2 separate regions of the Homo sapiens genome follow, and region 2 is linked to region 1. Evidence: fine-mapped expression QTL. Tissue or cell type: gastroesophageal junction. Region 1 holds a variant in brackets; the other region holds the start of a gene. All regions are shown on one strand. Distances are from middle to middle.

What was found. PIP is the estimated chance that this variant, and not a neighbour inherited with it, causes the effect.
Region 2: ASPG starts here. The variant in region 1 is fine-mapped to the expression of ASPG in gastroesophageal junction (GTEx, PIP above 0.99).

What each region holds. Positions count from the first base shown.
Region 1 is chr14:104,161,652-104,170,074 of GRCh38, reverse strand. KIF26A (kinesin family member 26A) reads right to left here. Exons shown (of 15, transcript NM_015656.2): 5 at 3,027-3,216. Among named protein-coding and RNA genes, the nearest start is that of KIF26A-DT, 27 kb to the right of the region's middle. RefSeq lists an enhancer at 513-1,225. The variant T/C (reference allele first, on the strand shown) is at 3,565.
Region 2 is chr14:104,082,904-104,090,113 of GRCh38, reverse strand. ASPG (asparaginase) reads right to left here and starts at 4,414. Exons shown (of 16, transcript NM_001080464.3): 1 at 4,262-4,414. The coding sequence starts at 4,343. It overlaps LOC124903408, which reads right to left. Exons shown (of 2, transcript XM_047432050.1): 2 at 6,419-7,210. The coding sequence ends at 7,179.

The DNA of each region.
Region 1 (8,423 bases):
CGGCATTAATCGCAGAGCGGGCTCACAACCAGGAGGAAGGGGGGTGTGGGCCTCCCCAGGGAGGGGATGGAGCAGCCCACAGTGGGGGCACCGCCCATCTAGCCTGCCCCACACTGCCCTGGTCCCAGCGCAGGCCATTGTCTGCCGAAAGAGAACCCTGTCATTACTGCAGGGAAATGACAGGGTCTTTGCAGGAAAAGGCACAGCAAGCCTCTCCCCTAAATGTTCAGATATTACAAAGCCCCACGGAATAGCTGCCTGGGAGAGAAAAAACACATTTTGCATTAAAAAAGGGCTTCCAGCTCTGAAGAGGTAGCCCAGGCAGGGAGGGGGAAGGGCGCTGCTCAGCACCCACCCAGACAGGGATGTCTTTTTTATACCACACTGTGATGAATTATCTTAAGTAGCACATTAATGTCAGAAATTGAACGTAATCTAACTTCTTTTCTGTGACAATATTAAACGCCTTTCAGGCGGCATTTCTGACTATGTGACATTAGTGCTAATAACACCCGGGGAGCTGGGGGGTGTGCAGGGTGGAGGGGCTGGAAGGCTGGTGACCCAGGGCTCCTTGTTGCTGGGGAAGCACTGAGCACTCCGGAGCAGGGTGGGGGTGTGACTGCCATGGAGAGAAGGGAGAAGCCCGGCCAAGGCTGCCCCCAGGAGGAAGTGGGGCAGAAGCTGTCCCCTAAGAAACGCGGGGCGCTGGGAAAAGTGTTGCGGGCTCCTGAAGGAGCTGCTGACTCCTCTGCCCCCCGCCCCAACTGGATGGCACAAACAGGCTGAGTGCCAGGCCCAGGCCAGAGCCAGGGCCCCGATCCCAGGCTGGGCGGGGAACCTGGATGCTGCCTGCCCACCACCGCCCACACCTGACCTCGGCGTCCTCCTGAGCTCTCGGCACAGCTCTGCAGCCCACGTGGCCAGGGCAGCGGCAGCCTGGCCCCAGCACCCACCTGCCCTGTCTCAAGGAGACTGTTGAGGGTGGGGAGGACCCAGGGTGCCCCAGCCAGCCAGGCCTGGGCCCAAAACACAGGCTGATGCCACTGGCCTCGCATCCCAGGGGACTGTGGAGAAACAGCCCGTGCCGGGCACACGCACAGAGATCAGGAGCCCCCTTGTTCCCCGCAGACCCCCAGCAGTGCTAGGCAAAGAGATTTCCAGGGAGGCAGTGACCCCCGGCCTAGTCCCCCAACTCTGCTTCACCCACCACCCCCGCCTCACCCCAGGCAGGGGCCTTGCCCCAACCCCAGCGGAGCAATGACAAGTCCCTGATCCAGGCCACACAGCTTCCCCTGCCCCCGGGCCTTGGATGCAGAATGTCGCCTCCGGAGGACAGAGATGCCAGATGCCCGCCAAGCCCTCCTTACCACAAACGGAAACCAGTGCCCAGAGGGACAAGCGATCCATTCAAACCCTGGCAACTGGTGGGGTGCTCGGGGTGGAGACCCAGAGTCAGGGAGATCGGGAGGCTCCTGGTGGTCTCACCACACACTCCCCTCTGGACACCCATGCAGCTCCAAGGTGCCAACTGCCTGATGCCCCCACCCGGACCCGCCATGGCCTATGAAGATGGTAAGAGCTGTCAGGTCTGCCCCACAGGCCGCCCCAGAGCCCCTATGCCCCACGGCGGCCCTCCCTAGGGACCCACCACTGCCCCAGACCAGTAGCCACCGTCAATTCAGGCCAGGGCTGCCCTGGAGAGGTTGGAGGGCTCAAGTCACGAAATTAGCGTTCCAGGGGCTGCAAGTACAATGCTCGCTACATCACCGGGCGGGCAGGGGGCACAGCCCCCAGCAACTGCACCACTGAGGGCGTGGCCAGACACACAGTCACTTACAGCCCTTCCCCGTAGCCAGCATGTTCCAAACCCTCCCACGAGCCTGGCACCTCCCGAGCTCTAACAAAATCCCAAGGTGTGGCTGCCCAGGAGGCCCCTCCAGGACTACAGAGCTGTAAAGGTCAAGCAGGCTCTCACCAGGACTGCGAGGGGTGCTCCTGGCACCCTAGACCCAGTACAGCTAGGGCAGTGGGAGAGGCCTGTGGCACCCCCAGGCCCAGGGACAGGGGCCTTCTGCCAGGGGGTCTCCAACGTGGGCACAGCGTCCCCTCCAGACCTTGTCCCCTGGAGAGCTGAACCCCTGGGAATCGTGGTCCAAGTCCAGAGGGGCACGGAGCCTGATGGCCCATGTGGGGCACAGAGCCTCCCGGGCCTGGAGGCACCAGGCAGTGCTTTCGGGGTGCTGGGCGGGAGGGGGCTGGCTGCAGAGCAGGCCGAGGGGCAGGAAAAAGCCACCGGGGGCACACACAGAGCTGTGTGACTGGCTTCCCACCCTCCATGGGCACAAAGAGCCCACCTGACTCAATGGGCCCACGAACCAGGCACTGCCAGCTCCCAGCACAAGGCAGGGCCACGTCCAGCCAGGGCAGGTATTTCTCCGAGACTCGGATGGCACAACCAGCAAGCCACAGGCCCCAGGCTCAGAGCTCCAGGGACAGCCAGGAGCCAGCCTGTCCCATCACTGATGGAGGCCCTGTGCCCTCCACAGGCGGCAGTCTTCCCATGTGGAGCGCGGCGCCAGAATCAACCCATCACGCATCCCGCTTTCCCATGGCAGGGGCCCGCCTGCACACGGTGACTCTGGAGAGCAGAGAGTCCCCTCCTGCCCCCAGCCCCCTCAGGGCTGCGTCTCAGTGGAGCCTACGCAAGGGGCTTCCCTGGATCAAACCCAACCTTAGTCCCTGGGAGCCCCGTGACCTGGCTGTCCCGCCCCACGCTGAACCTAGTACATGCCCCTGGGACCCCTAGGACACGCCACTCCCCTCCCATCCCGGCAGTCCCAGCCCAGCACAGGCTCCCAGGCTCCCTGCTGCCACCTGGGCCTCAGTCTCCCCATGGCACCCCACTGACCACCCTTATCCAACCCAGAGAAGGAAGTGGCAGCCCCTCCACTCCCTCACCCCTCCTGCGTCTTCTCAGACGCCTCTGGCCTCCCCACCCAGGGCCCCGAACTCGGGGCTGCGTCTACCTTCCCGATGCTGCCAGGGTTGTCCTTGGTCTTGGAGGCGGCCCTGAGCAGGCAGGGGGGCGCCGGGGGCGGCCACAGCTGCAGGACCCCGCTGAAGTCGGTGGGGTAGGTGGAGGTGCCGCGGGTGGCTGGAGGCGGTGGCGGGTGGGGCTTCTTCCTCTTGGAGGCCAGGCTGAGCTTCTGCATAGCCCTGGGGAGGAGAGGCAGAGGCAGGATCAGTGGTGGGTGACAGCAGCTGTTCCTGTCACCCGCCTGCGAGTCACCAGGCGATCCCACCCTGGGACTTCATCAGCCACCATCCCAGGAAACCCAGTCCAAAATGTGGCTGGGAGGCCTGCACTTCATTTCTACAGTGGACGGTTCAGGCTGGGGCCTCCATGGCGTCCCTGCCCCAGGGACTCTGCCCAGCATTCACACCAAGCTTGTGACAGGGTCCAGACCCACACAGGCTGAGCGCCCCTCCCTGTGCTCTGCACTGAATGCCATCCCCCCACCAAGGGGTGTGCCCTCATCCCCCACCTGCAGCCGCTGCCGGGGG[T/C]CGGACAGTGAAAGCTGCTCCCACCCGATGCCCAGGCTGTGGGCAGCCATGCACAGCTGTGACCTGGGCACATCCACCTGGCCTGCCTATGCCTCAGTTTCTACATCTCCAAAGTCGGATGAGGTGACAATGGAGGCCTCTGTGTGGCCCTAATGGACTGACACACTCAAGGCACCCAGCACAGTGACCACATACAGGAAGGGCTCAATTAATCCTGCTGTCGAGATTACCACACCCCAAGCCCCAGGCCCCAGGTGAGGCTGCCTTGCCCCTTGCCGATCACCAAGGCCCTAGAGCCATCCTGGAGCCACTGCCCAGCTCCTGGGCCCCTGCCACCCTCGTCACTCAGGGCTGCTGGGAAGTGCCCCCGCTGCCACCCTGCCCCTCAGCCAGGGCGAGCGCCTCCCCACCCCAAAGCCCACCCTGAGGCTCAGCCTTGCCCCAGCACCGCCAGGGGTGGGGGATTCCTGCACCCACAGTGCCCCCAGGGAACTCCCAGAAGGTGCAGAGTCTCCCAAAGCCCCCGGACCACAGGACCTCCAGGGGAGAGGCTGACGCTTGGGTTTAACACACCCTCCAGGGGAGGCCAGTGCATGCTTGGGAGCCACTGGGGTGGACTCCCAGGGGACCTCGACACGCACACCCTACAGAGACACACACAGACACACACAGAAACACACACATGCACACAGAAACACACAGACACACATATGCACACAGAGACACAGAGACACAGTCACACACATGCATACAGAAACACAGACACACATATGCATACAGAAACACACAGACACACATATGCACAGAGACAGAGACACACAGTCACACATATGCATACAGAAACACAGATACACACACATGCATACAGAAACACAGACACACACATGCATACAGAGACAGAGACACACACATGCATAGACACACAGACACACACATGCATACAGAAACACACAGACACACACACACGCATAGACACAAAGATACACACATGCATACAGAGACACACAGACACACATGCACATGGAAACATACACAGAGGCCCACACACACACGCATACAGAAACACACACAGAGACAGACACACACGCATACAGAGACACACAGAACACATATGCATACAGACACAGAGACACATGCACACAGGGACACACAGACGCACACATGATACAGACACACAGACGCACACATGCATAGAGACACACAGACACACATGCATACAGAGACACACACATGCATAGAGATACAGACACACACATGCATATGGAGACAGAGACACACATGCACACAGAAACACATGCAGAGACACAGACACACACATGCATACAGAAACACAGACACATGCATAGAGATACACACATGCATACAGAAACACACAGAGACATATACATGCAGAGACACACACACAGAGACACACACACATAGAAACACACACATGCATACAGAAACACAGAGACACACAGACACACATACACATACAGACACACACAGAGGCACACCCAGAGACACGTGCACGCATACAGAAACACACACAGAGACGCACACATAGAGACACATATGCATACAGAAACACGGAGAGACATAGAGACACACACAGAGACAGACACATAAAGACACAGAGACACATATACAGAGAGACACAGGCACACAGACACTCAGAGACACACACACATACTCAGACACTCACACAGAGACAAGGATACACAGAGAAAGAGAAATGCAGACACACACACAGAGATGCACACACAGACACGCGCACACACACAGACACGCGCACACACACAGACACGCACACACACTCACACACATACACACACAGAGCACACACATACACACGCAGACAGGCACACACACAGAGTACAGGCCCGCCGCGCCTCTGAGCCCTGGCTGTGCTAACCCTGCTGCTGGGGATGTGTTCCCAGGTCCCATCACTGGGCCACACCTACTCATTCCCTGGGGTGGCTTCTCTGTGGCCCACCCACCCCACCTCTGCAGGGCCCCACACCCTCCCAGCACATTTTGTGCTGCAGGCACCCAGAGCCCCTACCCCGGATCATGGACCCACCAGCACAGGGACACCAGGACGCCACAGGGGTGAACGAACACACACACTGGGTGTCACCACCTCCCAACAGGAGGCGCTCCCACGCGGGCCAGAGGCCAGGATGCCACCCGGCGAAGGGTGTGGTGAACGCTGACCACCGGCGCTCCCCCGACCCACCCTGGGCTCCTCTGTCCCCTAACATGCCCCACGCCCCCCCCACAGCCCTCGGCCTCTCACGTCTATCTTGACTCCCTAAAACTGACCCCAGTGTGGAAGGACCTGCACCCCAGAGCCGGGCCCGGCCTCTCGCTGCCCCCACTGCGGCGGCTGCAGCGCTGGCGTTTTGCTTAATTTCTTTCATTTTGAATAGGAGCTGTCTCTTAAGAGACCCCAGGGACGGCTTTCCTCCTAGTGAGGTGTCATCGTGGAAAGTAAAAGTAATCTATGACACATGGTGGAGTCCTTAGTAGGGCAGTGGTGGGCGGTGCCTGCAGCCACCCAGGCAAGACGTGGAGCCGGGGGATGCCAGGAGGAAGAATCCCAGGAACCAAACCCACGGCTACCCAGGAGAAGCCCCGGTAGTTCCAGGTGTGGGAAGCCCACCCGCCGCCTCGGGGACTTGGGTTCCTTGCCCACAGCTGGCACGGTATTGGGTAAATGCTGGCGATGCCGGGTGAGGTCCAGGGGTCTCAGGCACACGGGCCTGGGCCCCAGGATGCAGGTGTGAGTCAGAGCAGGGGTCGGGGCCCATGGCCGCCCCGTGCCGCGCATGCTCGGGGTTCCGGGGTCACTGGGGTCCCAGGTTCGTGACCCTCTGGTAGCTGAGCCACACAGGGTGGGGCCCAACGCGGCAGGGAGGCCTGCAAGGGGAGGCAATGGCACCTGCATCGTGGGGCCCGGGCCTGTGTGCCTGAGACCCCTGGACCTCACCCAGCATCGCCAGCATTTACCCAATACCGTGCCTAAGCCTCGTCTCTGTAAACCTCACAACTGCCCTGCAAGGAAGAGGCCCTTGTGCCCTCGTCGCCCAAAGATCACTCACACAGCAGATCAGGGACAGGATGGAGGCCGACACACTCGCCCACGCTGTCTGTGTGTCTGTGCGTCTGTCCACAGGGCAAGAAGCCCGGGCAGAGGGGAACGCTGGGAAGCGCAGAGGGCAGAGCCACAACCCAAACCTCAAAGTGAGCCCCCATAGCGGGCAGGGAGACTGGGCAGGGGCCTGGGCGAGGCCAGAGGCAGGCAGGCAGGGCTGCATCTGCCCATTTGGGGGCACAGGTGGGAGGAGGCTTGGATTTCACCAGTGTCTGCTCTTGGGGTTCTTCCTGCCTGCCCACCACCCCAGCCTCAGCCTCCTGTTCCAGACCCCCCACCCCACGACCTTGGGTTACACCTCAGCTTCCCGCCAGCTGCCTGCAAGGGAAGAAGCTGCGGCCCCGCTTTGGAAAACATCCGCATCTAGCAGGCAGGACTGGGACAGGGCTACCCCACCCTGCTGCCTGGTGCTGCTCCAAGGCTGGGACCCCAGGTTTCTTGGGGCGGGGCGGGGGGAAGGGCAGGGCCCTGCAGGTGCAGGTGGGAAGCCCCCCACCCTACCTGGACAGGCAGGGCTGAGGACGGTCCCCACGGTGGCCCCTATAAGGGACAGGGAGCCTCCCTGGACCCCTTTCCTCCTCTGGAAATGGATGTGGGGGACGCCCAGCACCAGCCCTCACTGGAGGGTGTTGGCTCGGCCTCAAGTGGATGGGGAGAGGTCACGCCCACCCAGAGCCAGCTCCTCCACCCTCCCCTGCAGCCCCTCCCAAGGCTGGGCAGGGTCAAGGTACCAGCTGCAACCCAAGGCTGTGGGCAATAGGGCATCGGCACCCACACCCCCAAGCTTCCAGGGGACGCGGAGGCCGGGCAAGCACTGGAGACTGGAGCAGCACTTGGAGAGGCCAGAGGGAGATTGAGGCTGGAGCCTTAGGTCTGCAGAGGCCAAAACCAGGCTGGCCCTTTGCCCCGTCGGCCACACAAGGGCTCTGCCCCTCCAGTGACCCTCCCAGGAGCAGCGTCCGCAGCACAGATCTCAGGTATGCCTGGGCCACAGCGGGCACACCCAGGGCCCAGGCCGCCTAGACAGAGGCTGGGACCGGGCGTCCTCTGTGGTTCCATCAGCCCTGGAAGTCTGGAAGGTTGTTCGCCCCACATCTCCACCCCACAATCTGACCTAACTTGAGGCGCCTCCTCCTCCTGGGGCCCATCGCCAACAGGCTGCACCCCAGCCTGCTGGGCCCTCCCGGTGCCTGCTTTTACGGGCTTACCTCACTGGTATGACTCAAAGACCTGCCACTGCATTAACGAGGCCCCAGAACGAGCACTTTCTCCTTTGATGAAATTCAGGCCCCCATGGAAACGACCATCAGACACAGCAGCCCCCATCTGGCTACCACGCTTGGGTTCAACAGCCCTTGAGGGCCCACGGCCCTGTGGAGGCAGGAACTTACTTTCTGAGCAGTGGGGTTTGTCTCCCCCAGGCCACAGCAGACACTGCCCACACCCAACACTGCCAGGGAGCGGCGGCCCTCAGTGGGCAAGTCTGAGGGGTTTGACTCTGAAGGGAAGACTCAGAAAAGCAGGAACTTCACCTGCATAAACAGCCCCCATCCTCACAGGACACCTCCTCCAGGAAGCCTGCCCTGATGCCCTGAGATGGGTGTCCCCAGCCCCTGCGCCTCCTGCTTCTATAGCAACTACCCCCTGCCGTGAGACACCAGTTTACACAGCTATGTCCCTGCCAGCAGGGGGTCTGGGGGCAGATGCTCACAGAAGAAGCTCA
Region 2 (7,210 bases), 79 kb after region 1:
GCTTTTGCAGTGGTTTTTATGGCTCACACCTGTAATCCCAGAATTTTGGGAGGCTGATGCAGGAAGATCATTTGAGCCCAGGAGTTCAAAACCAGCCTGGCCAATTTCTTTCTTTTTTCTTTTTCTTCTCCTTTCTTCCTTTTTTTTTTTTTTTTTTTTTTTTTTTGAGGCAGAGTCTCACTCTGTTGCCCAGGCTGGAGTACAGTGATGCCATCTCGACTCACTGCAACCTCCACCCACCCGGCTCAAGCAATTCTCCTGCCTTAGCCTCCCGAGTAGCCGGGATTACAGGCATGCACCACCACACCTAGCTAATTTTTTATTTTTAGTAGAGACGGGGTTTCGCCATGTTAGCAAGGCAAGTGAACCACCCGCCTTGGCCTCCCAAAGTGTTGGAATTACAGGCCTGAGCCACCATGTCTGGCCAAACGTTCCTTTTTCAAACCTATACTGTCGCCAGTAAAGTTTTCTTACCAACCTGCGAGTGGACCACTTTCCAACTCTGGGGCTCCAGCACTCACCCCGCAGTCAATGTGTTGTACGTCAGCAGCCATTCTAACAGGTATGTAGTGGCATCAGTTTTTTTTGTTTGTTTGAGACAGGGTCTCACTCTGTCACTCAGGCTGGAGTGCAGTGGCGAGATCTCGGCTCACTGCAACCTCCACCTCCTGGGTTCAAGCGATTCTCATGCCTCAGCCTCCCCAGTAGCTGGGACCACAGGCATCTGCCACCACATCTGGCTAATTTTTTTTTTGTATTTTTAGTAGAGACAGGGTTTCACCATGTTGTCCATGGCTGGTCTTGAACTCCCGATCTCAAGTGATCCACCCACCTCAGCCTCCCAAAGTGCTGGGATTACAGGTGTGAGCCACCGCGCCCAGTCAGCTGGGGCAATTTCTTTTGTTATTTTAAATAAACACCAGCTTTCAGCCGGGCACGGTGGCGGGCGCCTGTAGTCCCAGCTACTCGGGAGGCTGAGGCAGGAGAATGGTGTGAACCCGGGAGGCAGAGCTTGCAGTGAGCTGAGATCGCGCCACTGCACTCCAGTCTGGGCGACAGAGTGAGACTCCATCTCAAAAAAATAAAAATAAATAAAAAATAAACAAACACCGGCTTTCACACCTAACTATGATTTTGTAACTTGTATTACTTTTCTCAATGAGGGCCCTCCAAAAGCTTCAAGGGCTGCAGAATCTGAACCCTCCAGCCCTGCCTGGAACCTCTTCCTTGGCCCATCCAGGCAGGTGCCTGAGTTTGCTGGTGACTTGGAAACTCCTCAGCCCCCTGCCAAACACCTGGAAAGGAGGCTTTGCTCTCTAAGACAATGGGCCCCACTGTCACCAGCGAAGTCAAGCTTAGGCTTAGAAACTTGTGAACGTGTAGCACCCATTCAGGAAGGAGGTCCAGGCCAAGGGCACAGACGCCACTGCAGTAACCAAGAAGCCATGGGCATCACTCCACTGACACTCTCGACTGCTGGGACCCGTGTGGTCACCGGGCAGGGAGCTTCTCTCAGCTGCCTGGCCCCAGATCTCTGCCCTCCCTGCTGTGCCTGCAAGGAGCCGGGCTCAGGAGGGACTTTGGGACAGGCCGGCAAGCAGGTGGGGTTCCCAGTTTGACATAGGAAGTCTTCAAGTTTCTCGGGTGTACAGAACGTGGCCACTGATGCCAGCTTGGGCTTGGGGTTATCAGCCGTGTTTGGATTCGCTATGCCCCTTGACCTGTGATAGCTTCAATGAACTCAGAGAAGGGATGGGTCAAGGGGCGTCCCCACTGGCATCACCTCTGCCCTCCCTGAACTCTGGCAGGGCTCCAGGTGTGCAGCGTTCCACCCACAGGTCACTGTTTACCAGCAGGCGCAGAAGCCGTTCCAACAGCGACAATCAAACAGCTTTACTAGGGCAAAGCCACCACTCCCCTCTCACCTCCCCAGGGAAGGCCAGAGCCCACGTCAGCAGTGTGGAGGGAGTAAATCATTGACGCCTGACAGTCTGGCTGCTCCAACCTCACGAGGGGTTGGGGGAGCCCATTCCTGCAGGTTCCTGGAAGTGGATGCCCCACATGGGTCAGCTAGCAACAGCTGGGGGTGACCTCGCAGCCACACGAGGACGGGCTGCTGAGCAGAAGCCAGGACCCCAGTGCACAGAGCACCAAGGGATCTCAGAAGGCTGCTTCAGGTCTGAAGACTGACGCCCCACACCCAATTTCCAGCCTCCAAGTCTCTTGTTTCCCACCCAGACACAGGACCTCACAGCCTCTTTCAGAAATGCGGTGCACGCGTGTGAGTGCACCCACAGGCTGCTGCGGCGAGCACGCGGGGGCCAAGCGAGACGGGTGTGTGGTGGGGTTACAGAGTCCACCTGCCCCTGCAGCTCGGACCACTCAAGAACTACATGTTGAGCTCAACGAAACTGCAGTTGGCCACACTCCAAGCCTGAAGGGGTAGCGTCAGGGGCGTCGGACGAGGCCCCACACAGAGTCCCCAGGTCCTGTCCCCACTCGGGGGCAGCTCTGGCAGGCTCCGGCCCTGCTGGGCTCCCCACTCCTCTTTCCTGCACCTTGCAGGGCTGCTCCTGGCCTGGCCCTCTCCCATCTTTGTCCTGCAGGCCTTGTGTCCTCAGAGAAGCCCTCCCTGGGCTGCCTCCAAACTCCACACCATCCACACACCCAGCTCAGACCCTGTTATCAGCCCACAGCCCCTACAGGGCCCTGGCAGATCCTGCCCCTGGGACTAGCTCCTTAATGCATGCCATCCCTTCAATGGCAGCCTCTCTCTCTAGCTTGTGAGGGCCAAGCACAGGAATTGTGTCACTCTGTGTCAGTGGAGTGTCACACAGGGGCGTTTGCCAAGCTGTGAATGACTTTGTTCCATTCACAGGCAGAAGGAGAAGTGCAGAGGAGGCTCCCGGCAGCCTGGACAGCCACGTTCTTGGGGACCTGAGTCCCTCGTGGACGAGCCCCACTAGGCTTTGTCTCCTGGGCTGGGCGCAGAGTGGGCCTCCAGAGGGGTCTGCACCGGCCACAGTGTGGTGGGTGGAATCTGAGAGCACCGACAGAGTGCTGGTGGCTTCTGAGCAGCCACTTCAGCAGAAAGGGGTGGCCAGGAGGGGCAGCTGCCAGGGAACAGGCCGTGAGAGGGGGTGGGGATAGGAGGGGCGGGGAAGTGGTTGGCAGATGGGCAAGGGACAAGAGAATGTTCTGGTCATGCCAGGGGAGGCCCTGGGCTCTGGCAGAGCCGGAGAGGGTCCCAGCCGTCCCAGGAGAGAGAGCTGCGCTGGACACAAGCAGGAGTGTGGGGAGGGGCCAGGGCAGCAGGGAGTGGGAGGAGGAGGAGTGGAAAGGGCTCCTGAGGGAAAGGCAGGCAGTGGCCCATGGAGGGTCGCAAACAGGTTCAAGACGGGGCGAGGGGGCTGTCCTGGCCCCAAGGGAGGCCCCACATCACAGCAGAGCCCATCTGGGGGCCCCAGGCAGTGTCCTGCCCTCCTGGGGAACACCCAGGCATTCTGGAGGCTCCAGTGCAACCGTCCTCTCCCCATCCCGGTGGCCTCAGGCTCCCCAAGCTACCATCCTTCCTGTGCCCAGCCCAGGCTGGCAGCACTGTGCTGGAGTACCACAGAGCTCGGTGCCTGTCCCAGGCCCTGACCCCACCCAGGCAGAACTCAGTCCAGACGCAATCGCTGGTCTCTGGTCAACCAGGTCCACACAGGGGCAGAGGAAGCAGGGCTCTGAGGCCACCTCGGGTGTGAACACGTGCGTCCCCGCAGATGCCAGGTAGCCCCAGTATCGTGCCAACCACTGCTGCCTGACCAGGACCCCAGGGGACGGGGACACCCTCCTGGGTGTCGCAGTTGAGGGGTCCTCGCAGCCTCCTAAGCCTTCTCCAGGGCAGCCTCCTAAGCCTTCTGTGTCCAGAGCAGGAGCGGCAGGCCAATGCCCTGGGGCCCTCCCGCCCCATATTCCAGGACTTCAGGACGCTGGCCCTCAGGGGCGCAGCGGCAGCACAGGGGGCCTGGCCCCAGGGTCGCAGGGCGCTCCCGGGAGCACCGCGACGGCGAGAACCCACCGCAATCTCCTCTGTCCAGGTCGGGGCTCCATGCGTGGGGACGCCGGTGGCCGGAACCGGAGGAGAGCGACCTCAGCCCGCACCCCCCATCCAGGCGCGGATTTGACTCCCCAACGACCCCCGTGGGTGCAGGAGGGTCCGAGGCTCCCGGTCGCGGCCAGGTCCAGAGGCCTACCCCGCCCAGGGTCTCGGACTCACCGCCGAGCTCACTCCGCATGCCAATGGTGCCGCCGGTGTAGACGGCCAGCAGCCTCCGCTCGGGCCCCACCGCGCGCGCCATGCCGGACCGGGGACCACGGGAGTGGACGGGGGTGTGCAGCGGGGACGCAGGGCCTGCGGGACTCAGGGACTGCGCGGAGGAGGCCCGGGGCGCCGGGGGCAGCCTGGGAGGGCGGGGCCGGCGGGGGCACCCACGGGGAGGGGGCGGGAGTGGAGTCTGCCCGGGAGGGTGGGAGGCCCCGCGGAGGCGGGCGGGGGCAGGACCTGGGGGCGGGGTGGGTCCCGGGGACTGTCCAGGGTCGGAGAGAGAGGCGGGGCCTGGCGGGGTGGGGGCGGGGCCTGGCGGGGTGCGGGGCGGGGCCTGGCGGGGTGCGGGGCGGGGCCTGGCGGGGTGCGGGGCGGGGCCTGGCGGGGTGCGGGGCGGGGCGCGGCCTTGGAAACGTGTAGGAAGAGGTGAGGTCTGTGAGGGCGGCAGGGGGAGCTCCTGCCTGGGCAGGAGATTGGCTGGGGCCTGCTTGGGGCTGGGGAGCGCCTGTCCAGGGACTAGGGGGCAGCCAGAAAGGCAGCGACAGGGGTGGGGCGGGTCCTGAGCCATCCTGCGGCCATTGGCCCTCCGTGGCGGCCCTGGGTGTTTGAGTAGCTGTGACATGTGGTGCCTGGCAGACCGTAGTGCCCGAGGCCCTCCACGACCTGAGCACAGAGGGGGCTCCGTGTCCTGTCAAGCAGCCTCCACAGCCCCGGGGCTCCAAGGCCGGCATTGCTGCCCAGGCCCTGCTGTCCCTCCTTTGGATGGCCAGAGGCAGGCAGAGCTGGACCAGCCCCTCCACATGTGCCCATTCACACACCATCCAAGAGAAGAGCCCGAGGGGCCCCCAAGGGCTGGAGCGGGACAGAGCAGGAGTATGGCCTTCTTGGACAAACACCGCCATTTTAGGTTCCCTTTGATTAAAAAGCTGCCTAAATCCAGCCCAAAACACATCAGCCCAATAGCTAATGTCAGCACGACCGTAAACCACAAATAACATCTCCAATCAGAAACATGCCAACCTCGAGATAACCTCCCCTCCGACCAGAGACATTCCAAGCCCGCAATAAACTTTCCCTCACATAGAAACATTCCGAGCCTGCGATAAGCTCCCCACTTCCTAAACCCTTAAAGATCCTTAGTCTGTAGGAGAGATGGCTCCTGACCAAAATCGGCCAGAAGTCCCTTTCAGGTTTATTCTCCAAAATAAACCTGCCTTTGTTGAGCCGCTTTTCATGTTTCTTTCCTCTTTCTTTAACTCCTACAGAGCCCACCCTCCTTCACTCCCATGAGAGCCCAGGAGGGCAGGGCACTGGCGGGTGCAGGGTCCCAGGAGGGTCCCAAGCTGCAGGCTTGCTCCCAGGTGGACAGAAGATCCGCGGCCTCCTCGTCTCCTGGCACCTTGACTGCCTGGGGCACTGATGCACTTTGGTGGGAAACTGTGTGTTGCCCCCAGAAGGCACCAGCATTTGACACTGATTCCATAATAAAAATTATTATTATTCTGTTGCCTGGAGGGCAGTAGCAAGATCTTGGCTCACTGCAACCTGTGCCTCCCAGGTTCAAGCAATTGTCTTGTCTCAGCCCCCTCCCCGAATAGCTGGGATTGCAGGTGCACACCACACCAGGCTAATTTTTTTTTCTTTTTTTTTTTTTGTATTTTTAGTAGAGACGGGGTTTCACCATGTTGGCCAGGCTGGTCTTGAACTCCTGACCTCAGGTACTCCACCCACCTCAGCCTCCCTAAGTGTTGGGATTACAGGTGTGAGCCGCCATGCCCAGCCCCATATAATTATTTTGATAACAACAGTGCAATAGTGCAAAAGTAATCTTGTCTGCAGAGAAGCAAAGGCATTCTGCCCAGCAAAGGTCTGTGTTAGTTTTCTGGGACTGCAGTAACAGAACGAGTGATTTACAGTGCAAGGAGGTCTACCTCTCACAGTTCTTGGGGGTGGAAGTCTAAGGTCAGGGTGTCACAGGTTGGTGTCTCCTGGGCAAGCAGATGGTGCCTTCTTGCTGTGCCTCACAGGGTCTTTCCTCTGAGCAGTCACGCATCCCTGATGTATCTCCAGATGTCCAGACTTTCTCTTTTTATAGACATACCAGTCAGATTGAATTTGGGGCCTCATTTTAATTCAACCATCTCTTTAAAGTCTACCTCCAAATACAGTTGCATTCTAAGACACTGGGGTGTGGGGGACTTGAACATTAGAATCTAAGGGAGACAATCCAGCCCATCACAGCCCCCTGAAAATCCAGTTTCAGGTCCATTTGCACAATCATGTCAATATTCCTCATCTGTAAGTGTCTGTTTCAGGACTTCTCTTCTGAGCTGGTCCTCACAGCTGCCTGGGCTAGGGAAGCTCTTCGACGCATGCTCACCCTGCATCCCTGTGAGCACCATGTCTGGCCCTTTCGGGAATCATCCTTTAACAACCCGCCTGCTACCATAAATTCTAGGAAAACTTGTCTGGGGCCAGGGCAGCCTTCACTGGCAATAATCCTCACTGGAGTGGCTTTTCTCCCAGGTGCAAGGAGCCCCATCAGGTTTCTGCTGCTGAAACCTTGCAAGCACCAGGACTCGACGCTGCAGCTTCACCTGAAGACACTGCCGGTCTTTGGACGAATCCACTGTCCTGCTTTGCTTTTGTCTGCGTCCACCTACATCTACAGCGTCCTTGGACGGAATCTTTCATGCAATATATGTTGAAGGCTGGCTCTGTGCCAGATGCCTCTCTAGGCACAGGGGACGCAGCCCGTCCTTCTGAGTGTACCAGCCAGGGTGGGGGCCATAGTAGACAAAAATACCAGCGTCTGGCAGTGACAGTGCCTGGAGGAACACTCAGGGAACACGGAGACAGGCAGTGCTGTTTACAACAGGGTGGCCAGGGAAGGCCTCTCCG